7 separate regions of the Homo sapiens genome follow, and regions 2, 3, 4, 5, 6 and 7 are each linked to region 1. The links come from fine-mapping of genetic effects on plasma protein levels. Region 1 holds a variant in brackets. A gene starts in each other region. All regions are shown on their forward strands. Distances are between the middles of the regions.

Region 1 (4,075 bases):
ATGGCTGCATCTGTGCTATGATAGGGAGCTGAGCAGAGGTGCCCGGCTGCAAGAGAGACGGTATAGCCTGCAAAGCCAAAAACAGTTATTATGTGGCCCTCTACGTGAAAAGCCTGCTGACCCCAGCTGTAGGGACTGATCAGATTCAAGTCAATTTTCTCTTTTTGTAAGAATATTTTGTAGAGGTGCCGTAGAGGGTGGTGAAATCAGTAGACGGTAGCTGACTGTCTCTTTTTGTGGTGTTAGCAAGCTACTTATGATGACCGCCTAAGTGCACTGTTTTATTAAGAGTTACCAAATGTGGGTGCTGTTATAATTCTAACTTTCCTCCCTCACTTATTAATTAGAATATTTATATAAAAAGAAGTTTTCCATAATCAACTACTTGGTTGCCCTGAGGTTTATTTTGTGTTACAAGGGCAGGACAAATTCTTCATTCATTTCCCATATCCAACAGTTTTCAAAATAATTCAAAATAGGTTGATTGACCAGAGGGTTCTATTTTCTGTATCACTATAAACTCGTGTTTTTCAACATACTTTAAGGGTCTCGATCCACTGCAAATTTATTCTTATTGGTGCTCAAAATGAGCCTCTTCACACTCGTTCTTAAACCTTCTGATACAACCCTACAGTCTTGTTAGCCTCCTTGCTTTCCGGTTTGACTAGATGTTTAGGCTCATTTTATACATCTTCTGTTCCAGATGGAATCAGCCACTTCTCCAGGGAGCTCTGGTTCCTTTTAGTGAGAAACAGTAGCACTGAGCACCCTTATCTAATAAACCCTAAATGTTTTAAACTGTGGAAATGCTGAGCAACAGTGATAAGGAAAATCCAAAGTCCATTTACACCACTCTCTGGAATATATCCAAATACTGAAATTCAAATTATGAGAGCCAGACTGGTGACTGTTTCACACCGATGGCTCAAACATCACTGGAAAATCAAATTATGAAAGACCAGCTGCTGACACTGAACGGGTTTGCCTCCCATGGCCATCTAGACCGAGGGAGGCTCGCTGGATGATGACAAGATAAAGGAGTCTGCTGGGCATTAAAAGCTGGGCTGGGAGAATCAAAGTGGATTGCCCTCGTGTGACAGCAGCGAGCCTCCTGAATCAAGCCCAGCCTAAAAATGGAATCCTAACAGTGCAGATGCCAGCGACAAACAACCGACACACAGCACGGCAAGGTGAGTCCCCGGATTTATCTCAGCCTCTCCCCTCCCCGCCCCTCAGTGAAAGCTGACACCTTCTCAGGCACTGGGAAAGTCTCGCCATCCTTCTAGTCTCTGTGTTGCTAGGATCCTGGTTCTTGGAACCTAAGGCCCCTTATTAATCTACAGGGGCTACAGCAGGTAGAGAAAAACAGCAGGTATGTTTTGTCCGAATCATGACATCTCTCAACAGCTTTTCCTGCCAGGGCTTCCCAAAGAAATAAATGTACAGGCCGGGCACGGTGGCTCAAGCCCGTAACCCCAGCACTTTGGAAGGCCGAGGTGGGCAGAGTGCTTGAGGCCAGGAGTTCGAAACCAGCCTGGCCAACATGGCTTAACCCTGTCTCTATTAGAAATACAAAAATCAGCTGGGTGTGGTAGCACATGCCTATAATCCCAGCTACTCCAGAGGCTGAGGTGTGGGAATCGCTTGAACCCAGGAGGTGGAGGCTGCAGTGAGCCGAGATTGTGCTACTGCACTCCAGCCCAGGTGACAGAGTGAGACTCTGTCTCAAAAAAAAAACAACAACAAAACAAATGTACAGGCAAGGTTTGTGGCTGCCAAACTGAGACTTCTGAATGGCCTTAAGTAAAATCGTGCTGTCCAGCATTCAGACCAAACATTTCTCATCAGTACTTTGCCAACACTCAACGGTGTTTGGCAAGAGGCATTCTAGAAACTCTTCAGGAGGTGAGCCATGGAGATTAAGGCTGTCTCTGTAAGATGACAGTAATTGTTAATGTACAAGTAATCGGGGTTAAGCCTCACATATGGTCTCTGTCTCTCAAATCTGTATAAGCATTACTGAAATAATGTCCACCAAGACCTGTATTCATTTTCCAAACATCTACCACATTTTCTTATGATACCAAATCAGGTGAACAAGCAAACTAAAGTACATCTTGGTTATCCTTGGGAAGTGTACTAAGTACTAGCAAAATGACTCAGCATCTTTAAAATTTAGAGAACAAACA[G/A]GAAATGCCAACTTATCAAGGGGACAGCAGCTTGGTAGTTTTAAAATGTGTTTTTCAGGTTAGTGGAGAAAGACTTAGAGACATCTGAATTTTTTCTTAAATTTTTGTCTGCCTTCAAAGTGTATGCTCATTCTATGACACTAATTAATTTGGCCAAAAAGGAACCTAAAAATGTTTAGGAAATACCTTTTCAGCCGCTGAAAAGTATGGCAGCAACATCCAAATGGTCCCTTCAATGAAAAGACACATATTTTATTATAAAGTACACTCTGACATCAAGTGCCTTTTATCCATATATTATCCATTCTGAAATCTCTTTGGGTTGATGGGAAAAGGCTAGGGGGAAGGAGGGGATTAGAGCTTTGTTAGCAGTCTGTCTTTTAAAATTCAAGATTACAGGATATTCATTCTATTTTCCTCTAAGTTTCCGGGAAAATTCACCTAAAGTTCAAATTCCAATCCTACTACCCATTAACCAAGAGATCCAAGGCAAGTCACAATCTTCATCCGTCTTAGCTTTGTCCTCTGCCATATTAGAAATCATATCTCAAGGGTGGCCATGGAAATTCAATAGGTGCAAACTGAAAGACATAGTAACCAGCCTAATACCTGGCTCAGAGCAAGTGTTCAGTAAATGCTGGCTCTCTTCTTCTGGTCCTCTTCAATGCTCAAGACCTGAAATACTCTGATTTGTATTTCAGCAACCATTTAGAAAGTCTCAAGGATCAAGCTAAGAAAACAGTCAAACACTGCTACCTTGATAAAGCCTTGTCTGTATCTTTATAACTTCCTTAGACTATTTAAGACTCAGAAATAAATTAAGACAATGCTGGTGCGTTTTGCCGTCTCTGTAAGAGAACTGAGGGGTCCATTACTGTGGGAATGGAGGGGGAGGGGTGAGTATGTCCCAGAAAACCTTTAATAGTGCTGAGATATGTTTTTCGGTCTGCTGACTCAGATCATTAAATCTGGTTTACCTATGTATCAAGTCCTATAGACTTTTCTTTTTGATATGTCTTTAAGACGTAATGGTCCAAATGGCTGATTTCCTAATCCAGCAACCAAGAGGTGACCCAAGACATTATAGTGACATTGACCAATGGTTCTCAATCTTTAAAAACAAGGAAGTACCTTTTTAATTTCTCTCTTCAGCAAGAGACATGGAAGTACCTTTTTTAGACATAAAAAATATTACACATAGTTCATGACCATGTTTTTAGTATTGGTAAAAATACATAAAATACAACCATGAATTCTTAAACATGTCAATAAAATCCAAATTCTTTTTATCAGTACCTAGATACATTTTAAGAAATCATATTTTGAGATATTATTTATCAATCTATAATCAAAACTGGGCCATGAACATGATTTCTCTGATCCTTTAGAATAACCCTGATATGCCTATGGGCCTCCAATTCAGAGACGAGAAACTAACACTCTCTGGATTCTTGCCAATTAAAAAATGAGTGTCAAGTGTTAGAAATGTAAATTGATTTTTTAAAAATCTTTTTTAAAGGCAATCCCTAGTACGCATAAATAATCTTAATAATGTATCTATCTATTGGAACAGTAATACCCCTTCTATCAATCAATCCTAATGTGATAATAAAAAAGATTCAGGTCCAAAAATGTTTACTATTATTTTCAGTAGCAAAAGTATTGCAATATTCTCTGCAATAAATAATTGCAATAGCAATTATAATTGCAAATTAAATCTCCAATGGAGGGGACACTGTGGGTGACCTTTTACCAGCTTTGTGCACTTATCTCCTAGTTTTTATCTGCTTTGTTGCTAATGGTTTATACCTGTTACCTCGGTCAATTACTAGTGGGAGTTGAAGGCCACTTTCTTGGTTGGCCCTAAGTGGTTGAGAGTTCACAAA
Region 2 (4,075 bases), not on the chromosome of region 1:
AGATTGCACAAGATTGAAATGACCACTTCCTTCAGTGCTTGGAGGAATTAGCTGTTTGTGCCCTTTGAGCCCAGAGAATGTTTTGTGGGAAGATTTTCAATTCCTGATTCCATTTCTTTAATAGCTTTAGAATGACTTTCTATTTTTTATTTATTTGTGCACCCTGGTCAGTTAGATTTTTAAGAAATTCATCCATTTCCTCTAAACTAAATTTTTGGCATAAGGTTCTTATCATTTTCTTTTTGGTGTCTGCAGGCTCTGCAACTGGTTATATGTACCTTTTTCCTTTTTTCTTTTCTTTTTTTTTTTTTCTGGGACAGAGTCCTACTCTGTCACTCAGACTGGGGTGCAGTGGTGCAATCTTGGCTCACTGTAACCTCGGCCTCCCAGGTTCAAGCAATTCTCCTGCCTCAGCCTCCCAAGTAGCTGGGATTACAGGCATGTGCCACCATGCCTGGGTAATTTTTGTATTTTTTTTAGTAAAGACAGGGTTTTACCATGTTGTCCAGGCTGCTCTAGAACTCTTGACCTCAAGTGATCCCCCCGCCTCAGCCCCTTTTTTCTTTTTTTTTTCATTTTCAGTTCAGGAGAGTTTTAGCTTAATTATAGGCTACAGAACCAGCTTTGGGCTTCATCTATCCTTTCTAATATTTACTGTTTCCTATTTCTCTAATCCTAGCTCTTTATTTCTTCCCTTTACTTTCACTGGGCTTATTTTGCTATAGTGGAATGCAGAGGGATGAGTATTCCAGGAAGGCACAAAAACTGTGCCAAGTCTTGGAGCTAGGGATGAGTGGGAAAGGGACATGTTCAACCATTTTAAGCCATTCCCTCCCCACCTCCCAGCTCCCAGATATGTGCCCCTCGCAGGAGGAGCCCAGGAATGGGCCAAACACCTCACTTCTTTGCTCTGAGGGCCACCCCAGCCCTCCCATCAACAGCTCTAGAAACCCAATGGTCCTTCCTGGAAACACGGGGCCTGCATCAATCAGAGGTGTTTGAACCATGTCCCTCTGGGCCTGAGGGGCAGAAGGGGACACAATATGTAATGTAAGGAGCCCCTGTCATCAGAAATCTGACTTAATCTGTTTCAGATATTAGACTTCCACATAAAAGTTGACTTGGAAAAAGACTTCTGCTGCTAAACAAAAGTTGAAACTGCCTTGGTGATAAAATATAAGCAGACCAGCTTTCTCTTCTAGCTTTCCCTCTCATTTCCCATAAGATTTTGGTCAAGTTATTTAATCTCTCTGCATCCGTTTCCTCTTCTATGAAATGGGCATGATAATAATGGTATGTACCTCCTCAAACTAAATATATAACGTGAACAGAGTCCTTAGCACAGCACTCTTTCTCTACAGGAGTTAATTTTCATTGTTTTTCTCTTTCCTGTTGGAGAAAGTAAGAAGAAAACAGCTCCTTTATGGCTTCCCATGGTGAATGGCTGGGGCGCGTCTGTGTCCCTTTCTCCTCTCTGGCTCCTTGTGGCCTGAACAGCCAGAAGGAAGCCATGCCATGCTGTTTCAGCCCTCAGCTTCCCTCTTGCATTTCCTAGAAAAGTCTTTGGTGCCCAGCTCCAGCTCAGCAGATTCAGGATCCCCCTTCATCATGACTTGGTCAACGCCCTGCTCAGGCCAAGGTCCTCTGAGAGTTCCAAGCTTCTCCACTCCCTATAAAAGGCCGGCGGAACAGCCAGAGGAGCAGAGAGGCAAAGAAACATTGTGAAATCTCCAACTCTTAACCTTCAACATGAAAGTCTCTGCAGTGCTTCTGTGCCTGCTGCTCATGACAGCAGCTTTCAACCCCCAGGGACTTGCTCAGCCAGGTAAGTCACCTCCCTTCGACTCTCCCTCTCTTTCCCTCTGTTTCTCTATTCAAGGAAGACCTAAGCCCGAGTGCTCCTCCACTTTTTTTTTAGATTGAGTCTCATTATGTTGCCCAGGCTGAAGTGCAGGGGTGCGATCTTGGCTCATTGCAACCTTCACCTCCCAGGTTCAAGCGATTCTCTTGCCTCAGCCTTCTGAGTAGCTGTGATTACAGGCACCCGCCATCACGTGCAGCTAATTTTTGTATTTTTAGTAGAGAAGGGGTTTCACTATGTTGGCCAGGCTGGTCTCAAACTCTTGACCTCAAGTGATCCTCCCGTCTCGGCCTCCCAAAGTGCTGGGATTACAGGCGTGAGCCACCAGGCCCAGCCAAGTGCCCCACTTCTAAGCCCACCAGAATAGTAAGGCTCCTCAGAGGTTCACTTTAACATCTAATTTTAAAGATAGAAAGCTGAAGCCCATGTTGGAGGCAGAAGGGACCCTAGCCATCCACCTCCAGGTTATTGCAGAGCAAGAATGAAACCTAAGCTTCTGACTCCAGATTTAGGGCCTTTTCTTTGACCTCATCTGATCGTCCCAAACTCTGCAGATCTGGGACCACACCCAGGACCTTTCCCACTGGCCTTGCCCGTGGCCTCCCCTAGATGGCTGTGACATGTCTCCACCATGCAGCTGAGCCTTTGAGATCCTGAGGCACATGTCACAGGTCCCACCTCACCTCAGGGTCTAGGGTGGGAGTGCTGGGCTTGGGGGTGAGTAAGATCTATTTCTTCCTCTTTGCTTTGCATCCCATACAGATGCTCCCTGCTGTATTCAAGCTGAGAAAAGCCTAACACATCCTCAAAGTCTTTTTCTTTGTAACTATTTCTAGATGCACTCAACGTCCCATCTACTTGCTGCTTCACATTTAGCAGTAAGAAGATCTCCTTGCAGAGGCTGAAGAGCTATGTGATCACCACCAGCAGGTGTCCCCAGAAGGCTGTCATGTGGGTAGAAAAATCCCTGCTCACCTGGCTCCTCCCCACTCCCACATTCCCCAATCCAAAGTTCTGCCCCAGGAGACAGACGTCAGACTGACTTGAGATCTTAGGATGAGATCTAGCCAGACTGTGTGATGCAAATCCTCCAATTTTGGCTGCACAACAGGTCCAAAGAGGACCTATAATTTCCCACACCTTGTTTCCTGGATGGGCACCAGCCCACACCCTTTAGCAGATGCCAGGATCAGTTTCCCAGGGGCAGCAAGAGCAGTGGCTGCCTCCAGAGACCCCTTCTGTCCACACACCTCCTACTTCCTGTCCTGGAGGGGTGCCCCTTCACCTGTAGTAGGTGGACCAGGCAGGTTTAGAACCCAGTGTGTCATCTCCTGGGTAAACCCTCAAAGGGTTCCATCTAACTGTGCCAGATCTCCTTCCTCCACAGCTTCAGAACCAAACTGGGCAAGGAGATCTGTGCTGACCCAAAGGAGAAGTGGGTCCAGAATTATATGAAACACCTGGGCCGGAAAGCTCACACCCTGAAGACTTGAACTCTGCTACCCCTACTGAAATCAAGCTGGAGTACGTGAAATGACTTTTCCATTCTCCTCTGGCCTCCTCTTCTATGCTTTGGAATACTTCTACCATAATTTTCAAATAGGATGCATTCGGTTTTGTGATTCAAAATGTACTATGTGTTAAGTAATATTGGCTATTATTTGACTTGTTGCTGGTTTGGAGTTTATTTGAGTATTGCTGATCTTTTCTAAAGCAAGGCCTTGAGCAAGTAGGTTGCTGTCTCTAAGCCCCCTTCCCTTCCACTATGAGCTGCTGGCAGTGGGTTTGTATTCGGTTCCCAGGGGTTGAGAGCATGCCTGTGGGAGTCATGGACATGAAGGGATGCTGCAATGTAGGAAGGAGAGCTCTTTGTGAATGTGAGGTGTTGCTAAATATGTTATTGTGGAAAGATGAATGCAATAGTAGGACTGCTGACATTTTGCAGAAAATACATTTTATTTAAAATCTCCTACACAGTGGTGTTTTCTTCAGGAGTAACTGCCAACCAGTAGGGGCTCTCAGAGGTGTGGGTGGATGGCATGCCAGTGGAAGGCAGATGTACAGAGGCCCTGGCCATGGGGCTAGCCTGGCTCATCTGAGTTTCAAGGAGGGCCTGCCTCACCAGCCCAGGCTGTTCTGGAACAATGGCTCCAGTCCCCAGCATGGGCGCTCCTGGCTCGCAACTCATCCGTTTCATATTCAGTTCATTTCTTT
Region 3 (4,075 bases), not on the chromosome of region 1:
TAAGAAAGGGCATTTCTCTCTGCCACTGTGGGGGTGAGGGATTCACACTTGTTAGATGCCTCCCTCCACCTGCCATGTGCCAGGTCTTCGTTTACTCCTCACAATGGAAGGAGGAAGGTAGAATTATTTCCATTTTACAGGGGAAGAGACCTGGCCCTGAATGGTTAAGTGTCCCAGGGGTTACAGACCCAGTTAGGGACCTGCCCTCAGGTTTGCTACCCAGGACTGGGTGTGGGGAGGGCGGGGCAACCCGCTGGGAGCTGCTGAGTGTGGGGCACAACCCAGCTTGGGGAGTGGACCTGCAAAGTGGGGACGGGGCTGGTGGCAGAGGCAGAGCTGAGAAGGGAGACCAAAGCGAGAGGCCACAAGGGCCTCGGAGGGGAGTATACAGGTCGGGGAGGGGGACACAGCTGGAGGTGGAGCTGAGGGCAGAAACTCAGCCCCGGGAGGGGGCTGGAATCACTTTCACCTTCTTGCCTGCAATACCGTCAGAATAAAGTGGTACTCCATCAGGGGCCCGATACAGACCCAAAAATGTAAACTATCTAGATAATTTCGCATTAGCCCTCCCCGGGCCGGGCTACAGGCTGGAGAGTTTTGGCCGCCCAGCAGGCTGGCAGGCGGGGGCAGAAGAATTGCGGGCGGGGGGCGGGACAAAGTATGTGCCTGTCCGACCTGTCGGGATTAGCCTGTCTGTCGGAGCCAAGCCAGGTGCTGGGGCCGTGCCCCCCCTCCAAAAGCAAGGGCAGCGGAGGATGGCTTCTTCACCCCTCCATCACCCCCGCAAGCGCGCACATTCTTCTTCCCTCCCCCACCATCCCGCAGAGGCCCCAACAGGTGCCGAGGGAGACGCGGACCTGAGGTTCCCCTGGCTGGCCCTCAAGAGCCAAGAGAGCTGTCCACGTCTGAGAGGCCAGTTTCACAAGAAAACTCCTGCCCCCAAGCACACTCACTCCAAGTCTGTCCCGGCCCTCCAGGGAGTCCCGGGCGAACATAGCCCCCACCTCTCCCCAACTAAGCGATACCATCGGTTCCTGAGCGCCAGACCCCGAGGGCCAGGGAGCCGCGCCACTTCGCTGCGCACCGGGGGCCGCAGCGCATGCCGCCTGCCACGTCGAACCCAGGCCCAGGCTGCGGACTGGGGTGGGGGTCACCAGAGACCGTGGGACTTGGGGGAATCCGAGCCAATGAGCCCCAGGATCAAGAACTTCTGGATTGGAGGCGGGGTATAAACAGGGCTGGTGGACTTGGGGAATTCAGGACTGCGAGTGAGGATGATCACCCGGGGCTGCGGGATGGAGGGGAGTTCGAGGGGAAGAGGCTGCCTGCTGGATTGAGGGCCGACGGGGGCGGCAGACTTGCAGGAAGGGTGCAGGAGGTGCCCTGTCCTGATCGCCGACCGGAGAGCGATCAGACTCCCCTTCCTTTCTGTCTCCCCCCACGCACCCAGCTAGAACCAGCCCCGACGGGAGGGCCCGCCGCGCCCCAGCTCCCGGGGAAGGGGGCGCTGGGGAGAAGGATGGGGCAGCTACGAGGGGACTCACCTTCGTGCTGCCAGTCGCGACGGGGGCAGGCCCGGGAGGGGCGAGGGCGCGGCCCGCTCACCCGCCCGCTGCGGGACTGTCCTGGGCGCCCGGCTCGCCTGCGCTCCGCCCGCCCGTTCCCAAGTTGCTCAATCTGCGGACGGCTCACGCCCTCGGGGCCAGCGCCCCACCCGGCGCATCGGTCCTCCGGGGCGGCTCGGAGCTGCCCTCGTTCTCCGCAGCACCCGAGCGGATGCCCTACTCTGGCCGGTCGCTCCGGGCTCTCTGCCCTGCGCTGGTGCTCTCCGTCGCGCCTCCGCTCGGCCGGAGCTCCCAGCCCGGAGAGGGGCCAGTCCTCTGCGAGCACCAGGGAGGGAATCCCCCCCTTCGCAGTCCCCCCCGCGAGCCGGCCCCCCTTCCAGGGATCCGCAAGAAAAAATGGACTGGAGCGCCGGCCCGGGAGTCCACACGTCCTTGCCCGAAGCTGGCGCTCTGCGCTCCGAGCGCGGGGCTGGCGGAGGGACAAGTCCCCAGGACCCTGGGGCAGACCTTCTGCTTTTGTCCCCTGCCCCTCCCCGCGCCCCGGGGATTCCACGCAGCCAGAGAACCCGCAACAACTCCGCTCATCTTGGCGTCAGAACGCGGCCGGAGACCCTCATGAAAACCCCAGTTTCCCCATCAGGAACCTGGAAAGTGACAAGGAACAGGCTCCACAGAGCCTGGTGGTCTTGACCACACCCTCTCCCCCTTCAGGGTCAAATCTTCTGTGCATCTTCCCAGTTCAGAAGAAATACCAAGGCTATCAGATCCTGGGCACCGAGGTGAGGACACCTCCAGAGGCAGCTGGTAGGTGAGAGTGAGGGAGATCATACAATAACACTTAGATTCATGTCTGGCTCTATCACTTACCAGCTGTGTGGTCATGCCTAGGTTACTGAACCTCTCTGAATCGCAAGGCTTCATCTGTTCTGAGGGTTCAATGAAATGAAGGCTACAAACTTCTGGTTAATGGTGGGAACCCCATACATGTTTGTGGAATGAGTCTTGAACGGCTACAGACACCTGCAGTGACCCAGATGATGTTGAAGTCAAGCCCGAAGAAGGGAGGGAAGGAGACTCACTTCTTAGAGTGACAAACAGCTGTTCTCCAGCTTCACTTCAGATTGGGAAAGGAAAATGGGCTAAAACTGTAGTTAGTGGGAGTTAAGCTAGAGCAGAAAAGATGTACTGATTGTGTGTGTGTATAGGGGGGGTGAGTAATCAAGACAGGCTGTGGAATCTCCCTCTTAGGAGAGAAGGGGGGAGCCCTGACTATTGAGTTAAGGGCACAGGGTCGTTTACAATGACAGGAGGATGGATGTAATGACCCCTAGAGTGTCCCAATGGCCAGGGAACAGGGATGGTGGATAGCCAGAGAAAGTGGAGCAGTTGGGTCCGAAATGCCCAGTGTCTGGGTTCATTCAGCCAGAGCATTGCCAAGTTTGCAGGAGGCAAACAGTCATTTCCGAGTTGGTCCAGGGGCCCCCTCCAACCTCCAACCCCCACTCAAGTCCCTCCTCTCTCACCTCTGCCCTGAGCCTTCCCTGCGTCTAACCGGCCCTTGGCTATGCTCTGTGTCTAATCAAACAGCCCCAAATGCCGAAAACTCAATGTTTATTTTATTTTATTTTTTTACACACTTGCATAACTCTCTGACAAGCCACGCCAGGCATTGGGCTTTTTGTTTGGTTTTATTTTGTTGCATTTAGGAAAAAAAAGAGGGAGAGAGAGAGAAAAGAGAAGAAATAACACAAACCACACAGCCCTAGAAGCTGTCCTAGGCCAGGCAGTGGGCTCGGGTTTCCTGCCTGAGGAAAAGTCTGTGGAAGTTGGGGGGCCTCGTTACTAGGCTCAGGAATGAGTGAGAAAGGGAAGAAAGCCACCTGGGTGACAGAAGATAACGAATTAGAACCATGTGACAATAATGGGTGAATAAGAAAGAATGTTTCTTGTGCACCTAATGTATGCCAAGCACTGTGTTTTGCACATATATTCTGTTACCTAATTTCGCAACTATTGTAGTTCCTTTCTTTTTTCCTTTTTTCCCATAAATGTAAATTCTGATCCTCAGAGACGCCAAGTCAATTGCTCAGAGACACACAGCCTGCAAGTGGCCAGCCCAGTTCAGGTTATGCCAAATGAGTTGTTTCCCTGGGAAAGCTGTGTTGCTCTAAATTTGCATATGCTGTTCATTCTGCTTAGAAATGTCTTTTTCTCGGCCAGGCGCAGTGGCTCACGCCTGTAATCCCAGCACTTTGGGAGGCTGAGGCAGTCGGATCACGAGGTCAGGAGATCGAGACCATCCTGGCTAACACGGTGAAACCCCGTCTCTACTAAAATTGCAAAAAATTAGCTGGGTGTGGTGGCGGGTGCCTGTAGTCCCAGCTATCGGGGAGGCTGAGGCAGGAGAATGGCATGAACCCGGGAGGCAGAGCTTGCAGCGAGCCGAGATCACGCCACTGCACTCTAGCCTGGGCAACAGAGCAAGACTCCGTCTCAAAAAAAGAAATGTC
Region 4 (4,075 bases), not on the chromosome of region 1:
TTATTCGGGAAAGGTGCTCCAAATAGGAGGAATATTTGGAAGAAATCCCAATAGGGATTTGGAGACATGCCATTTGGGAATGCAAACCCAGCCCCTCCTAGTGCTCCACCCTGCCCATGTCCCCATTGAACCGACAACCTGCAGAGAGAGCAGGATGCCCACAGCAAGCCCCAAGGACAAAGGCCACAGAGTCAGGGCACCCAAATCCTAACCTAACCTTGCCTGTGCTTCCTGTGTACTGTGGCCATTTTACTTTCCCCCTGTTCCCTCCTCTGTAAATGAGGCCCTTGGACTGCATCAGTGGTTTTTACACTGAGCTCCCTGGAGCTCTGGGGGCCTCAGGGACTATTGTGGAGGCCTTGCTGCATTTGAGAGTGGTGTCTTGTACCCTACTCAACCCATTTTTTCTGTTTTACATATTGGGCCTCTGTGGAAGATATTGCTTGAAGAAAAGGTTTTGTGGTCTAAAAAGTTTTAAAAATCACTGGATTGGGTGATTTTTTCATCTATTTTCTGATTGAGAAGTTTCATGGCTTTTATAGGAGAAGCAAGGTGACAGCAGCCACCCCAAGCTTGAATTATAGAGGTAGCAGGAAGGACATTGTAGGCCAAGAGCCCTGTACAAACAGGCACATGTTGTGGTTATGGAGTGGAGAAATCAGGTGTGTGCATGTTATGTGACCCTGCTTCATAGAATCATGGATGTGCATCACAATGGCCTCAGAGGTCACTGAGGGTGGCCAGATGTCTGGGTGGAAGGGTCTCATCCTGTTTTCCAGCTCCATTCCAGGCAGCATCCTCACGATCCAAAGAACGGCATAAGGGGCCCCTGTTTCCTGAGACCCAGTCAGAGCTCCTATACTCTCCCACCTTGTTCCTCTGAGCTGACAAATGACATCGGAGAGGGCAAGTCAAACTGTGCACATACCCACCAACTTTAGCTGTATTTTAACAACCTTCGGTTTCCCCCCAGTTTCTGAAAAGGAGAGTAGGTAAAATGGAAGAGTGATAAATAGTTTTGGTTATCTCTAAAGGCAGCTTATTCTAAGAAATCAGCTGAGAAAAGGGGGCCTAGGATGGACCCCACACTGTCGTGTTTCCCCCCAGCCCATACCCAAGCAATGCTGCACTCACTGGGCACAGGTGACGCTGGAAGCAGGCTGGGCCCAAACCTCAGGAGGCCAATAGAAAAATGCCCTTGAGGGGCTCAAGACACTGCTCCTAATCTCCCTGAGGAAATATACCCCAAATGGGGTGGGCCACTCTTTTGCTTAGCGGCAAAGAGAGAGAAATTGAGGGAGTAGAGAGGCAGGCTGGTCTCACTCCATGTCCTTGAGGGCAAGGGGGGACTGGTCCTGGGGGGCAATGATAAGAGATCAAGGCCATGTGAGGCCTGGAGATTCAGGATCTGTTTATTTGGAGACTAGAGGGCATTTGGGGTAGTGGAATGAAGCCTGGAGTCTCCCAAGTCAAGTCTCATTGGTCAAGGCTGGAAGATCCCAACTTAAACTCTTAAGCAGAACCTACAGTCCTAAGTCTCATCTCCATCCTGCTCACCACACCATGGGGTGAAGTGCTGTGGTGCTCAGTAGATAATTCATTTATATAATGTTGCTATACACACAATTTCAAGAAGATACCAGCCCTCCTTTCTGAGTCCCTGCTCCTGGTCTTCCCCTGAGCCCCAACCTCACTCCTGCTTATTTCCCTGCAGGCTCTAGGTTGGAAGGAAGACAAGGCATTGCACTCACGTGAGGAGGATTCAGTCTTGGTCCCTAGGGCGATGGTGATGAGGAGGAAGAAGGGAATGGCAGCCACGGAGATCTTCATGCTGTGGGAAGCTGTTGTGGGAGGAGAGCTGGCCTGGTGGGAGCTTCAGAGGCTCCTGCGGTGAGGAATTGTTGAGAAATGATCATTGAGGCCAAATATTTTTTAAAATAAGGGAGCTGAGACTTGGAAGGGAAGTAGGAAAGCAGTGATGCCTCAGCAATTTCATATCCTGCACATGTGTTGTTGGTGGCCTGAAGGAAGCAGGGAGAGCCAAGGTTTAAGGGAGGAAATGGTCTTCCATCCCCAGTGGGAAGAAGTTCAACTCTTTTGATAGAAGCCTTTCCCTAGGCATGAACATGAGCACAGGGCTGGGGGCACTGTGTCACACTTAGCAAAAGATCTCAAGGCTGGATGTGTCCTGTATCCAATTCCATCTCAGGCCTTAGAACAGGCCACGTGGGGCCTGGACATTCAGGATCTGTTCATCTAGAGACTAGAGGGTGTTTGGGGTAATGGAATGAGGCCAGGACTCCTCCAAGTCAGGTCTCATTGGTCAAGGGAAATCCTAACTTAAACTCGAAGCAGAACCTGCAGTTCTCTGTCTCATCTCCATTCTGGTCACCACACCATGGAGTGAAGAAGTGCTGTGGTGCTCAGTAGATAATTCACTTATATAATGGTTGCTATACACACAAGCCACTGTCCCAGTTGCCTTATGAATATTAGCCTATTTAATCTTTAGAACAGCAGTTGAGGAAACAGGCTCAGAATCAAAGCCTAAGCTTTTGACAGTTGGTAAATGGAACTGGGGTTCAAATTCAGGTGGTTTGGCTTCCAAGTCTGTGTTCTCACCCATTATGCCATAAAGAAACATGGGACTCCCAACGGAGCTCTGTAAAAGCTTATGGGTTTTCTATAAAGCCTTTAGTCTTAGTCCTTTCTGAAATCAGATAGTGGATCTCTTTGGGACCTTCTCCTGGTTTCTCTGACTTTTGCTGCAAAGAAGCTTGGTGGGAACCCTAGAAAATGTCTAATTCAGGGATAGCTAGTAGGTTTCATTGATTAGTGGTGGACTGGAGCTCTGTGTTGGAAATGATTCTGAGGCCATATCCAGGCACATTGGGAAGATACGCTGTGACCAACGTGCAGTTTCTGTTGCAGTGCAGCTTGCATGCTATGTATCTGCCATTTGATTTGTCTAAACTGGCCATTTACTGAATGGAAGCTGGGAATCAGAAAGGACCAGTGACTTTCTCATGTGCACACAGTGATTTGGATGCAGGACAGATCTCATCTCCGCAGGCTCTCAGCTTAGTGCCCTCACCATGCTGTTCTTGGAGGTACATCCCCCATTCTGCTTGCTGATGTGGTTAGATGGTTATTTAATCTCCTCTCCTCATCTGAATCATCAGGATGGAGAACATCTATTATTTATCTTTGCCCATTCACGCAGAACCTAGTGTATACCAGGTGCTTTATGAATATACATTTTAAAAGAAGGATGAATAAACAAATTGAGCCAGGTCTACATATGTGTATCTTATAGGAAATGGCTGAAATCTCATGGTTAGTTGTGGAGACAGTCATCAATTAAAAATTTTCTATATTTCTTATCATCAATAACAACATTATGTAAACCCTTCAAGTTAAATGATAATAATTGTTATCAGGAACAATCTCAGGAAACAAGTTGTTTATAGGAAAAGTGAGTTGGAAAGAAATAATGCTTACTTCTTGTTTTTGTGGAAACTAGCCAACCTGCCAAGTTGTTTCTAGGAGACTTACAGGAAGTTCCTGTACTTTTCCAGCAAGTATTGAGTTCCTACCTACATTAGTCTGTGTGTGCCAACTGCTATCATAAACAATCCAGCAGACTAATTAAATAAAAGTTTATTTCTTGCTCATGTTACAGTCCAGTGTGGGTCAGTAGTGGGATGATGGTGTGTGTGTTGGGATCCTCCATGTACTCATTCAGGAACCAGGCCTTTTTCTACCTTGGATGCCACCATTTTCAGCACAAGGCCTCCAAGCTTGATACAAAAAGGGAGAAGCAGAGGAGGATTGGGAGATTTTTGTGGATCAGTTCTGAAAATGGTACAAATTACTTTCACCCACATTCCATGGCCAGCATCAAGTAACCTGGCTCCAACATAATGACAAAGGGATGGAAAATATACATCATCTGTATGCTTAGGAAGAAAAAGGAATAGGTTTTGTGACCACATCACTTCTTTGACACAGTATCATATGCCAAGTCCTGGGCTAGGCTTGGAGGGAGGGATTGAAGATGACCCTGATCCCAGAG
Region 5 (4,075 bases), not on the chromosome of region 1:
GATCTGCCCACCTCAGCCTCCCAAAGTGCTGGGATTACAGGCGTGAGCCACCACGCCCGGCCTATTTTATTTTTTTTGAAACAGTTTCTCTCTTGTCACCCAGGCTGGAGTGCAGTGGCGCGATCTCTACTCCTGCAAACTCCGCCTCCCGGGTTCAAGCGATTCTCCTGCCTCAGCCTCCGGAGTAACTGGGCTTACAGGCCTGCGCCACCTCACCTGGCTGATTCTTTCATTGTAATAGAACAGCTTTGTTGGGATATAATTCACACGGCACATACAGTTGACTCTTGAACAACACGGATTTGAACTCTGTGGGCCCACTCATAGGCAGCCTTTTGCCAACCAAAGGAGGATAGAAAATACAAAACTCGGTGATGCAAAAGCTGCATAAATTCAGGGGAAATTGTATGCCAAAATCCTGGCACCAATCCCCTGTGGTTACTGGGGGATAACTGTAATTCACTCTTTTTTTTCTCTTTTGTTAGGGATGAAGTCTCTCTGTGTTACCCAGGCTGGAGTGCAGTGGTGCGATCATACCTCACTGCAGCCTTGAACTCCTGGGCTCAAGCGATCGTCTAAACCTCCCCACCATGTACAACTCCACCAATTTAAAGGCTATAATTATAATTCAATGGTTTTTAGTATAGTCATAGATTATGCAACCATCACCACAATCAATTTTAGGATATTTTCATCACCCCAGAAAGGAACCCTGCACTCAACATGTCATTTAATTGTTAGCCACATTTTCAAGGTTATTCATCATAGCTGATGATTCCTGAGCTCTTACTTCACTGTGAGTTTATTAAAAGTGGGGATTGGCTGGGTCCAGTGACTCACACTTGTAATCCCAGCATTTTGGGAGGCTGAGGCGGGCAAATCACATGAGCTCAGAAGTTTAAGACCAGCCTGGCCAACCATGGTGAAATTCTACTAATAACACAAAAATTAGCTGAGCATGGTGGCATGTGCCTGTAATTCCAGCTACTTGGGAGGCTGAGGCAGGAAAATTGCTTGAACCCGGGAGGGGGAGGTTGCAGTGAGCCAAGATCGTGCCATTGCACTCTAGCCTGGGCAACAAGAAAGAAACTCCGTCTCAAAAAGAGAAAAAAAAAGTCAGGTTCTACCTGAAGCTCAGAGTCACACTTGTTAGTGTGCAGAGGTGGGGTTTCCAGGTTCCCATCCCAAGGCTCATCCTGGGGGTCTGCCCAGCACCCATCCTGTTGCATGACTGATGGGGCCCCAGAAAGTACGTCCGAGAAATACTCACATCACAGCCCGCTGGGAGCAGCTGTTACTGGTGAATTCATAGCTTCGCACCCAGGTCCAGGGAAGGGGCTTGTGGCTGTATTGGAAGCAGCAGGTCTTGGATATGTCACTCCCACCTAAAAATCAGGGAGAGGAAGGGTTTGGAGATACTCATTTCCATCCACTCCCAGGCGGTCCGGGAAGGAACCCCAGGAGGGGAATGGGCCAGCTACGTACGTGTGGCAGTTCCAAGGTGGAGACTCAGGAGGGAGGCCAGGAGCACAGCAGAGGCCAAGGAGAGGCCCATCATGATGCTGCAAATCAGGCCCTTCTCAGGTTTCTCCCAAACTCCTCCTGCCTGATCCCCTTTTATGAGACTGAGACGGCCCTGAAAACAATTCCAGAGAATTCTGTGGTTGGGAACAGAAGCAGCACTTTTGACCCAACAAAGGAAAAGTAAACTAATACTCATAGGAATGAAATTAGACAGTGAAGAAAGATAATCTGGCACTGGGCGTGGTGGCTCATGCCTGTGATCACAGCACTCTGGGAGACCGAGGTGGGCGGATCCCTTGAGGTCAGGAGTTCAAGATCAGCCTGGCCAACATGGAGAAACCCTGTCTCTACTAAAAACACAAAAATTGGCCGGGCATGGTGGCAGGCAACTGTAATCCCAGCTACTCCTGAGGGTGAGGCAGGAGAATCACTTGAACCTGGGAGGTGGAGGTTGCAGTGAGCTGAGATGGCACCACTGCACTGCAGCCTGGGCGACAGAGTGAGACTCTGCCAAAAAAAAAAAAAACAAACAAACAAACAACAAAAAAAAACAAGTGACAGATGGTAGAGATCCCTTTATTGAATTCCATCAACAGGGACAAAAAAAGAAGAGAATTTGGGAGAAGAGCAGGGGCAGGCAGGCCCCAGGGAGTCTGGTTCCCAGTGCTGTTGGCTGAGTCAACACTTTCTTGTTTAAAAAGAAAAAGCAGAGGAAATTAAGTAATATTCCAGTGAACTGAACTAAGTTACTTTATAGCACAATTGGTTGTTGAAGATAGGTTTCTGGCTCTTGGGCAAAGTTTTGTTTCCTTTCTAAGCATTGCTTATCTCTGTGTGGAGCTCTGGATGGTCTCAAGATGTGATCATAGAGTAGCCCAACCTCGACAATGGATATTTAAAAACAGGGTCCAGGCAGGTGCCAGCCCATCTTCTTGGGGCCACACCTGTAGGGCCAGGGCTGGCTGGGGGCATTTGAGAGATCTAACAGATCCCAAACCTGACAGATCATCACAATCACCCGAGGCTTAAAACAAAACAAAACAAACAAACAACAACAAATAATATATATATATAGTGAGAGAGAGGGCCTGGTCAACATGGTGAAACCCCGTCCCCACTAGAAATAAAAAAATTAGCCAGGCACGGTGGCGGGCACCTGTAATCCCAGCTACTAGGGAGGCTGAGGCAGGAGAATCGCTTGAATGCAGGAGGCAGAGGTTACAGTGAGCCGAGATCCCGCCATTGCACTCCAGCCTGGGCGACAGACCAAGACTGTCTCAAAAAAGAAAAAAAAATAGAGATGAGGTCTCTCTATGTGGCCCAGGTTGGTCTTAAACTCTTGGCTCAAGTGACTGTCTCACCTTGGCCTTCAAAAATGTTGGGATTACAGTGAGCCACCACGTCTGGCCATACCTGGTCAATTATTATTATTATTTTGTGTGTGTGTGTGGGGCCAGTCACAGTGGCTCACGCCTGTAATCCCAGCACTTTGGAAGGCAGAGGCAGGGGGATCGTCTGAGGTCAGGAGGTTGAGATCAGCCTGGCGAACATGGTGAAACCCCGTCTCTACTAAAAATACAAAAATTAGCCGGGCTAATTTTGTGGTGGCTCATGCTTGTAATCCGAGCAACTTGGGAGGCTGAGGCAGGAGAGTCACTTGAACCTGGGGGGCAGAGGTTGCAGTGAGCCAAGATCGTGCCATTGCACTCCAGCCTAAGAAAAAAGAGCAAAACTCTGTCACAAAAAAAAAGAAATTTGTAGAGCCCAAAGGTTGCCAGGCTGGTCTCAAACTCCTGGCTTCAAGGCGATCTGCTTACTCCAGCCTCCCAAAGCACTGGGATTATAGGGGAGAGCCACCACACCTGGCTTCAGCCAAATTTTTAAAAGAACTTAACAGAAGTTTGTGATAGTCAGAGCTGTTGTAGGTGGGAAGAGGATAGATGGTGAGTTGCCTGTCACTCAAACCAGGCACAACAGTCTGGATGATCATGAGAGGGTGGTTTGTTTTTGTTTTTGTTTTTATTGAGATGGAGTTTTGCTCCTGTTGCATACGCTGGAGTGCTATGGCACAATCTCGGCTCACTGCAACCTCTGCCTCCCAGGCTCAAGCAATTCTCGTGACTCAGCCTCCCAAGTAGCTGGGATTACAGGCATGCGCCATCACGCCCGGCTAATTTTGTATTTTTAGTAGAGATGGTGTTTCACCATGTTGGTCAGTCTTGTCTCGAACTCCTGACCTCAAGTGATCCACCTGCCTCAGCCTCCCAAAGTGCTGGGATTACAGGCATAAACCGCCATGCCCAGCTGTTTGTTTGTTTTTTTGAGACAGAGTCTTGCTCTGTCATCCAGGCTGGAGTACAGTGGCACAATCTTAGCTCACTGCAGCCTCCACCTCCTGGGTTCGAATGATTCTTCTGCCTCAGCCTCTGAGTAGCTAGGATTACAGGCATGCACCACCATGCCCGGGTAATTTTTGTATTTTTAGTAGAGACAGGGTTTCACTATGTTGCCCAGGCTGGTCTCGAATTCCTGACCTCAACTGATCTGCCCG
Region 6 (4,075 bases), 110 Mb before region 1:
GCGGTTTCCGTACGGCAAGACAAGGCGCGGAAAACATTTTTACCATCTGACGCTGTAGTCTGTCCTTTAGAAGAGAATAGGTGAAAAGTTTAATAAAGAAATTAAGCGATGTGGAAGTCGTTCCCGCTGCTTGCAGAGGGTGGGGAGGCGGGCCTGGGCAATTTCGGAACTAGGAGAGACCACGTCGGCAAAGCCTGTGGTCCCGAACAAGGGCCATGGATTTCCCATTTCTCAGATCCCGGCTGCCCGACTTCATTCTTGTTTCTTTCAGCACAAGCCATCCTCCCTTCTCCCTCCCTCCACGTCTCTTGGCAGAGACAGAAAGGGACACCGCTCTGCCCGCGTCCAGCGCGAAGGAGGTGACCTAAAACCCATGGGCCCTTCTCACACTGCGTTCTCTGCGCTCCGGCCCAGTTCCGGGAGGACCTCCCGACGGCGCGGGAGAAGGCTGTAAGGGCTCTTGGCCCCCGACGCGGCCTGGGTCTCGGGGGACGCATGAACCCGCCACCTCTGGCCGGCTTCCTTTTAGTGCCCCAAATAGCAGCGCTTAGCCCGTTGCTTCCCCCGACTCTTGTTTTTCAAAGTGTTCACAGGGTCGCGAGAGCGAGCGACGCGGGGGCGGCGAGGCTGCAAGGCTGCACAGGAACAGACGACAAGAAATAGGGCTTTCTTCTGCGTGGTTCTTTTCCGGTCCCTGTCTGAGTCGCCCGACCCCGCGGGGAGCGCGGAGCATTGCGGCGTGCGGCGGGCTTCGGGCTCTCAGCCCGCGCAGCAAGTTGTGTTGCTTTTCCCCGGGTGCGACGCGGGACGGCCGCGAAGAGCAAAGTTCGTCCGCGGTAGGAACTTCGAGGCCCGGTTAGGACCGATCTCCGGCCTCCGAGTCTACTTAGCCGTGTCCACGCTCGTGCCTTTTCCCTCTTGCAGCGAAATAACTGGGCGGGGCCCGACGCGCGTCCTCCAGCGACTCCGGGAACCCAAGGCCTCCTTCACCTCGCTCAAAATTCACCCGAAAATGCGCTGAGACTTTGGCATGGGGCTGCGCTGTGTCCCACTGACGTTACAGAAGCGCTTATGAATTTAAAAACTGCTCCAGGCGGCCGGACGGCGGGACAACGCCTCCTCACTTGCTCCTCTACGGCAAGGCCCCTTCCTTCTCCCTGCCGGCTGCGGTGGTGTGTAGGGTGGTCCCTTTACAGAGTTTCCTTAATCCATCTAGCCTGACCTCACCTGCGGGATGTTCCATTTCCCGATCCACCTCCCACACCCCCGCTGCAGTTGTCTAGAAGCTGGGGCTGGGGAACTGAGGCGCGGGAGGAGCAGACAGGAGGGCCGGGGTTGGGGCGCCAGCCACGCGTTGGGAGAGCAGACCCGGGTGCAGACTCAGAGGACTGGAGAGGCGGCATGGAGTTTGGTCTCCTGGGAGGTAGAGTGAGGTGCTGCGGACTCCAGGGAGGAAAGGGATGGGTGGGGAGGCGGGAGGGGAGGAGGGACGGGGTATTTTGCGCTCCCGCACCGCGGCCCGAACTCAGCTGTTCTGCCTTCACTGGCCTCAGCCAGTCGAGGGAGCTCCTACGAGGTTATCTGCGAGCCCAGCAAATCTTGGGGGTCCTAGCCAAATGCAGTGCGCAACGTTCTCTCTCACTTGGAGGCCGCCATTCACCTCGTTTTTTTTTTTCCTAAAAGGATTTTTTTTTCTGAGTGCTTTTTTCATTTCCCTATTTTACCTGCTTTGCACATGCCTCCCGCCCTCACCCGGGAGGCGGCGAAGACGCCCACTGGGACCGCGCCTGGCCGTTTTCTGGGCGCGTCCTGCCCCCACGGCCTCTGTCTCTTAGGGCGACTGGGCGCGGAAGAAAAGCTGGAGAGCCCCTGCGGGGTGGCAGGAGGAGGGTGCCTGAGTCCCGCGAGAGGCCCGGGCGAGGAAGATGCGCAGCCTGCTGATCCGCGTCCCGCCCGGCGCCAGGGACCCTCAGAGGGAGGAGAGCTCAAAGACCTCGCCCCGCGCCTTCGCGAGGACCAACCCAGTCCCCGCGCCTGCCCCAGAGCGGCTTAGAAACTCAGGGCACAGTGAGAGCGCAGGGCGCCTCCCGAGGCTTCACACCGCCGGCCGGGCCAGCGGAGGCTGTGACCGGAGCGCCCCCTCTGTGCCGCGCACGCCGCGGCCGCCGCCGGGTTGGGGTAGGTGAGCGGGAGGCTAGGGTACACTTCGGGGTGGGGGATGGGCGCGCACATGGCCGCCAGCAGGCAGAGTTACTCCGGTAAACACGCCAGGGACGGCGGCGCGCGCGGGAGGCAACCCAGCGGGGCAACCCCCGCCTTTACCTGTCCGAGCCTGCACGCGCCGGCGGCCGCGGCGCCGAGGGGGGCGGAGCTTGCCAGCCCGCGCGCCGGGGCGGGACCTAGCGGGGGCGGGGTCCGCAGTGATTGGGCGTAGGAGCGGGGCCGCCAGCCAGAGCTGGGCTGCAGGGCCGCGCAGGTTTCACTTCGCTCCGCGCAGCCGCCTGGTCTGCAGTTTGTTGGAGCTCTGCGTCCAGCGCCGCTGCCGCTGCCGCCGCCGCCGCCGCCGCCGCCGCCGCCGCCGCCGCCGCCACTACCACCACTTGATTCTTGCAGCCACCCTGCGAACCCTGCCACACTGCGATCGCATCATCGCGGTATTCGGTTCGCTGCGTTCCCGCCGCCACCGCCTCGGCGCCCTTTCTTGGCCCTTGTTCCCCCAAATGTCTGACTCTGACTCTCGGACTGAGAAACGCAAGGTAAATACCTCCAAATCCCGGGGCGCGGGCCTGGCACCGAAGGAAGACTAGCGCTGGAGCCCGAACGGCACCACCTACTGCCCGCTTCCCGTGCACGTGCGAGCGGAGACGCTTGCATCGGCGCCGCTTGTCGCCGGCGGGAGGTGGGGATCCGTGTGGATCGGGTTCCCTCTCGGGCAGGTTCTCTTTAAAGAAAAGTCGTTCACGCGGAACCTGCAGGCTCTTGGCCGAAGTGCGGCTTGGGACGGGATGCTGCGCGCGGGCCTGGTGAAGGGTCGTAGGTCCGGGCAGGAGGAGAGGCAGCGCGTGCCTTTCGGCGCCGGCCCGGGAGCTGAGGACCTGCTCGTAGTATCGGGCTGTGCGCCCAGCTGGAAAGTCTCGCCGCCGGCTCCGGCGCCCTCAGAGTAGCGGCCGCGCAGTGTGAGGGTGTTTCGTGTCTTGGTTTTTTGGGGCGCGTGGGCCTGTTGCGGAGGATTTGCGGAACTGCGGTGGTGATTTAACTGACGAGACACGGCTTTTCCTTTTACTCATTCAGGCCAAGGTTTCGGGGCCACTGCTGCGTTCGCTTTCTCAAGCGTACCTGGGGCCCCTGCTTGCTCTGCAGGAGTCCTGCGGCCTGTGCCATCCGCACGATTCCCTGGCAGCGAGAAATCTAGGTCCTCCCCTGACCACCTGGACCGCGCAGGGGACTAGTCGCGGCCGGCAGAACCTGCTCGGTCCCTGGGCCGGGCTATCTTAGCGGCTCACGCATGCCCGAGCACACCCGACCCGGTTCGCGGTGCAGGCTGGCGGCGCCGTGCCCTCTGGGACCTGTTGCCCCAGGGTTGGCGCTGCTGGTGGAGGGCCCGACGGACGCCAGGGCGGAGGGTGTGAATTTACTCGATGGTCGCGGACGTGCGCGTCCGCGGCCAGGGGTGGCTCTTCGGCTTTGACTCGTGTCTGCGGCGCACCAGGAGAGAGAGGAAGTTGTTGGAGGAGAATAGTTGCCACAGCCAGGGCGGTGACGGCCGTTAGGGTCTGCCCCCGACGGGCCAAAACAAGGACAAGTGGCGAGGACTGGGCCTGGGGATGGCCCTGCGGGTCCGGGCGCGGCGCAAGTCCTGCTTTGTCTCCAGGTGACTGGCTGTCCAGGACGGCGGGAGCTGCTAAGGCTTGTGTCCGGAAGGAGCACAGGGATGGGCAGGGTGGCCGGGCCAGCCGGCCCTCAAATCCTCCGACGAAGCGGCAGCCGCCACGACCACGGCCAGAGCAGCGCTCGGAGGCGAGTTTGTCAACAATCGCCTCGCCTTTGGCGGCCTGACCCGTAGGCGCCGCCCCCA
Region 7 (4,000 bases), not on the chromosome of region 1:
AAAAATTAGCTGGGCATGATGGTGCACATCTTTAGTGAAGATCAAGGAAGATCACTTGATCCCAAGAGTTTGAAGCTGCAGAGAGCTATGATCATGTCACTGCACTACAGTGTGGGTGACAGAGAAAGACCTCTTCTCTAAAATAAATAAATAACTAGATAAAAAAGAAAACGAGCTTATAAAATGACGATATAAAGAAAAAACGTTTTTGTACAGTTGTACAATGCGTTTAAAGTGTTATTACGAAAGTCAAAAAGTTTAAAAATTAAGAAGTTTATAAATAAAAAACACAGTAATCTAAGGTTAATTTATTGTTGAGGAAAAAATATTTTTTATAAATTTAGTGTAGCCTAAGTGTGTACAGTGTTTACAAAGCCTAAAGAAGTGTACAGTCATGTCCTAGGCCTTCACATTCACTCACCACTCACACTCCGACTCATCCAGAGCCACTTCCAGTCCTACAAGCTCCATTTGTGGTAACTGCCCTACAGAGGTGTACCATTTTACTCTTTTATACCATAATTTTACTATATCTTTCTACATTTACAGATGTTTAGATACTCAGATATTCACCATTGTGTTACAACTTCCTATGGTATTCAGCACTGTAACATGCTGTACAGGCTTATAGCCTAGGAGCAATAGGCTGTACTATATAGCCTAGGTTTGTAGTAGGCTATACCATTTAGGTTTGTGTAAGCACACCCTGTGATGTTCACACAATGACAAAATCACCTAATGATGCATTTCTCGGAATGTATCCCAATTGTTAAGCAAAACATGACTGTATTTTTGAATATCCTGTATCCAACACAATGGCTGTTGCAGAATGTTTTGTAATTCATATGTGTTTATGAACCTGAAACTTGAAGCCCCTTCTGAGTTAACAGCAGAGAGAATGAAGGGGAGGGATGATTTTGCATATGGATGGGCAACACGCTGGGTTTTTACAGTCTTACACCCAGATTTTAATGTTTGCAGTGTAAAGGAATCCAGGTGGTCCTGAGTGGCAACTGAATCATTCTTTCTCTGCATGTAAACAGAGTAACTCAATACATGCACTCAAAAACAGAAGACATCTGCATCTCGGGAGGTATAAGCATGGTGTCAACACTGTGCCATGTCTCAGGAGCTGGTCTTGTCAAGTTTCAGTGGGAAACCACTAAACATAATGAGTGAGATGCCTGATACCCTATAATTATTATAGTATATACAGTATGCTATTTATGTATCAAGTTGTATTACATGTGTGAATAATACTATGTTATATGTAATGTAATCTCTTCATTAGAGAAAGAAGAGTTGAGGAAAGCACTGTGGTGTGGTGGTTAAGAGCACAATTTGAAATTCCCACTCTGTTACCTACTTAGTTATCTGAAAGTGGGCAAGTATTTTAAACTCTATAAACTTGATTTTTCTCTTCTGTAACACTGGGGAGGATAATAATAATCATAAGAAATAATTACTAACATTTATGTGTGGCTTATTTATGACACACATTATTTTAAATACCTTAAATTTATTAACTTTTTTAATCCTTCCATAAACTCTATGAGGGAGGCAATATTATCCCCATTTTAGGGATGAAGAACCTAAGGTACAGAGAAATTAAGCAACATGACCTGATATACACAGCTAACAAGTGGCAGAGCCAGGTTACCTCATTATTCAAACTCCAGAGGATGTTCTTTTAACCAGATCATATCTATCTTTTAAAAAATTGTTTAGTTCATGCATGGAAAACACTTAGTATTCCTGGCATATTAAAATGATTAATAAATTGGAACTGTTATCATACTACATTAAGAATGACACCGATCATCAATTTAGTAACTTTTGTTGTTCAAACTGTGAAATACCAAGTATACAAAAAAGAGAGGAAAATTAAAGCTTTTTTTCCCCAACAATCCTGTTAAAATTAATAATAGATGACAACAAGTCAATAGCAAATTTTTATTTCATGTGAATATTTTTGTAAGAATAGTGTGGGTATAAGTTTTAGGGTTTAAAAAATGAATGAAAGTTCTGTTGATGAAAAAAGTAGAATTTAGAATTAGGAGTCTAGTAAGGTTGAAGTCCTATATTGTACTTATTTATAAGGCTCATTCTAATGATAGAATTATAACTATGTAGATATGTTAATTCATTTTCATCATCTATTTTTGTTCTACTAGTGGCAAATATATTCACTTTAAACCAGCTAACCACAGTTTATAAGATTCATATTCACCAATTTATTATTTTAGTGTTTGATGGCTAAAATAAACATCAGAATAAACTTTCAGGGAGTATTTTAAATAAGACATCCTAGGACTAAGACACTGAGAGACTCCATTAAGTTCCTAAATATATTAACAAAAATGTATTGAGCAAATATTCTCTGTTGGGCTCCATGTAATTCCTATTATCATTGACCATTATGAAATCTAATAATACCCATGAGTATGTCTAATAACCATAAAGTAGACCAGGAAAAATCAACCAAGTTGTGTTAGAATAGAAATTTTTAAAGAAAAAAATGCAAAGTACAGTCCAATGTTTAGGCAAGAATTAGAGGGTTGAAACCAGGCTTATTTATTTTCATCTTCTTTCTGCCATCTTTTAACCAACCTTCTCAGAATAAAATGTGATTTTTGAGACAGAATGAAACACATATCCAAATTTTAATACAGTAAGAATAGGTATCCTGAATAAATGAGAACTCTAGAAAATCAAGGTTTCAAAATTCTACCCTTCCTGGGAGTTAAAGAAGTTTGGCAGAAACAGAACAAATTAATCAGCAGATTCATCACCTGCCAATTTTTTCTGTACAATTTTCTTGATTCTGGGAGCATCTGGGTCCAGGCAGATTTTCCTCCCATCCTTCAGTGTGGCTCTGCAAAAGAGAACAGGGTTATCTGTGGGTGTCCTGATCTGAATATCAGAACTAATCCATGAGACTGGAGGAAACGAGTGCATATGTGGATGGAGGTAGAGGGTTTCTCTGATAAGGCAATAGCACAGAAACAGCAACTTACATCACTTCGACTTGGTTGCAATGGGTTCCTTTCCCGATCACTTCCAAACTTTGGATGTTTTTGGGATGAATTCCAGAGGTTGTCTTTATACACATGCAGCGGAGTTCAGCATACAAGTCACTGTCTAGACTTTCCTCTAGGGTAGAAAATGTGACCTATTGGTGGTCATGAATATTTTCCTCAGGTCTCTTATTTGCAGATTGAGGGCAATTGTACCTCTCTCATAAAGCCATTGTGAATATGATCTGTAACGCTTTAGTAAAGTGCCCAGAAGATTGCCCAGCACACAAGAAGTGAGAAGTGACCCCCCTGTGTGTCTCCTCCAATTGGAGTTATTGGTATAATGGCCCTCTCCAGCCCCAAAGGCACCAAGCTAGTCTTTACCCCAGAGACAGGTGTAGCAGAAGCAGCAACAAGTGCAGAGAAGCAGGGCCTCTACCTTTGCCTTTCGCCAAGTTTCTCTTAGTTTGTCCTTTGGTGGAGGAAGCCAGAGCAGTCAGCAGCAATGACAGAAGCAGCAGCACCTGCAAGGCATGAAGTGGTCTCGCACTGTTACAGGAAGGGGTGGTATCAAGTCTGAGGCTCATGGTGGAGAAGGCTGAGCTAGAGTTGTTTCCAGAACCAGAAGACCTCTGAGTGAGGGTGAGTTGCTGCCTACAAGTCTGCAGATAAGTGGCTTCTCATGCCCTGAAGATGTCATTTATATGCTCTTTCTCAAAGCCAGTAAGAAGGAAGAGGTAGGAAAGGAGGAAGTGAGGGTATGTGGTGATACACACATAAGCATTTGAAGCTGTGCCCAACCCAGAGAAAGACCAGACAGGTCAAATTCCTACTAACTTGCTTAATGTGCATCACTTCACATTCCCACTCTCCCTTTCTCAATACTTATCTTCCTTACACCTGTGTAAGAACTCCGTTCAGGAAGGTAAGAACTAGACTGAAATACTACATGCATTTTCTTTGTATGATTTATAACAATACGC

Which allele goes with the higher level. Positions count from the first base shown, and alleles are read on the strand shown. Strength reflects both the effect of a copy and how common the allele is.
For the plasma level of the protein whose gene starts at base 1,703 in region 2, G is the high allele of the variant in region 1 and A is the other (weak association).
In carriers of allele G in region 1, the plasma level of the protein whose gene starts at base 1,871 in region 3 tends to be higher than with A alone (weak association).
With allele G in place of A in region 1, the plasma level of the protein whose gene starts at base 1,910 in region 4 is higher (weak association).
For the plasma level of the protein whose gene starts at base 1,593 in region 5, allele G in region 1 goes with a higher level than allele A (weak association).
In carriers of allele A in region 1, the plasma level of the protein whose gene starts at base 2,482 in region 6 tends to be lower than with G alone (weak association).
For the plasma level of the protein whose gene starts at base 3,691 in region 7, allele G in region 1 goes with a higher level than allele A (weak association).

Evidence for each region. A credible set is the group of variants that fine-mapping cannot tell apart. PIP is the chance, under the fine-mapping model, that this variant and not a neighbour inherited with it causes the effect. Protein levels are from antibody-based Olink assays in UK Biobank. Linkage for the fine-mapping came from a reference panel and not from the study's own genotypes, which makes the PIPs less certain.
Region 2: CCL13 starts here. The variant in region 1 is the best candidate, but not a certain one, in a credible set for the plasma level of the CCL13 protein (UK Biobank, PIP 0.77).
Region 3: it holds the start of RSPO1, and the variant in region 1 is the best candidate, but not a certain one, in a credible set for the plasma level of the RSPO1 protein (UK Biobank, PIP 0.84).
Region 4: it holds the start of CCL14, and the variant in region 1 is the best candidate, but not a certain one, in a credible set for the plasma level of the CCL14 protein (UK Biobank, PIP 0.64).
Region 5: CCL26 starts here. The variant in region 1 is the best candidate, but not a certain one, in a credible set for the plasma level of the CCL26 protein (UK Biobank, PIP 0.72).
Region 6: it holds the start of BCL2L11, and the variant in region 1 is the best candidate, but not a certain one, in a credible set for the plasma level of the BCL2L11 protein (UK Biobank, PIP 0.67).
Region 7: it holds the start of PPBP, and the variant in region 1 is the best candidate, but not a certain one, in a credible set for the plasma level of the PPBP protein (UK Biobank, PIP 0.82).

Annotation. Positions count from the first base shown.
Region 1 is chr2:224,007,968-224,012,042 of GRCh38, forward strand. The region is part of intron 1 of SERPINE2 (serpin family E member 2); the gene reads right to left. LOC124907990 (a long non-coding RNA gene) reads left to right here and starts at 910. Exons shown (of 2, transcript XR_007088102.1): 1 at 910-1,190. RefSeq lists enhancers at 1,331-2,530, 1,455-2,030. The variant G/A (reference allele first, on the strand shown) is at 2,190.
Region 2 is chr17:34,354,778-34,358,852 of GRCh38, forward strand. CCL13 (C-C motif chemokine ligand 13) reads left to right here and starts at 1,703. Exons shown (of 3, transcript NM_005408.3): 1 at 1,703-1,825; 2 at 2,698-2,812; 3 at 3,249-3,833. The coding sequence starts at 1,750. The coding sequence ends at 3,354.
Region 3 is chr1:37,633,022-37,637,096 of GRCh38, forward strand. RSPO1 (R-spondin 1) reads right to left here and starts at 1,871. Exons shown (of 7, transcript NM_001242908.2): 1 at 1,545-1,871. RefSeq lists enhancers at 162-689, 1,218-1,745, 1,746-2,272.
Region 4 is chr17:35,984,820-35,988,894 of GRCh38, forward strand. CCL14 (C-C motif chemokine ligand 14) reads right to left here and starts at 1,910. Exons shown (of 3, transcript NM_032963.4): 1 at 1,752-1,910. The coding sequence starts at 1,830. CCL15-CCL14 (CCL15-CCL14 readthrough (NMD candidate)) reads right to left here. Exons shown (of 7, transcript NR_027922.3): 5 at 1,752-1,885.
Region 5 is chr7:75,770,619-75,774,693 of GRCh38, forward strand. It overlaps CCL26 (C-C motif chemokine ligand 26), which reads right to left and starts at 1,593. Exons shown (of 3, transcript NM_001371938.1): 1 at 1,486-1,593; 2 at 1,271-1,385. The coding sequence starts at 1,558. RefSeq lists a silencer at 2,113-2,407.
Region 6 is chr2:111,118,433-111,122,507 of GRCh38, forward strand. It overlaps BCL2L11 (BCL2 like 11), which reads left to right and starts at 2,482. Exons shown (of 4, transcript NM_138621.5): 1 at 2,482-2,756. It overlaps ACOXL (acyl-CoA oxidase like), which reads left to right. Exons shown (of 18, transcript NM_001142807.4): 18 at 1-116. RefSeq lists enhancers at 1,687-1,766, 2,917-3,036 and silencers at 2,047-2,586, 2,920-3,214, 4,007-4,075.
Region 7 is chr4:73,984,500-73,988,499 of GRCh38, forward strand. It overlaps PPBP (pro-platelet basic protein), which reads right to left and starts at 3,691. Exons shown (of 3, transcript NM_002704.3): 1 at 3,457-3,691; 2 at 3,018-3,153; 3 at 1,940-2,875. The coding sequence starts at 3,604. The coding sequence ends at 2,773. RefSeq lists enhancers at 344-857, 858-1,370.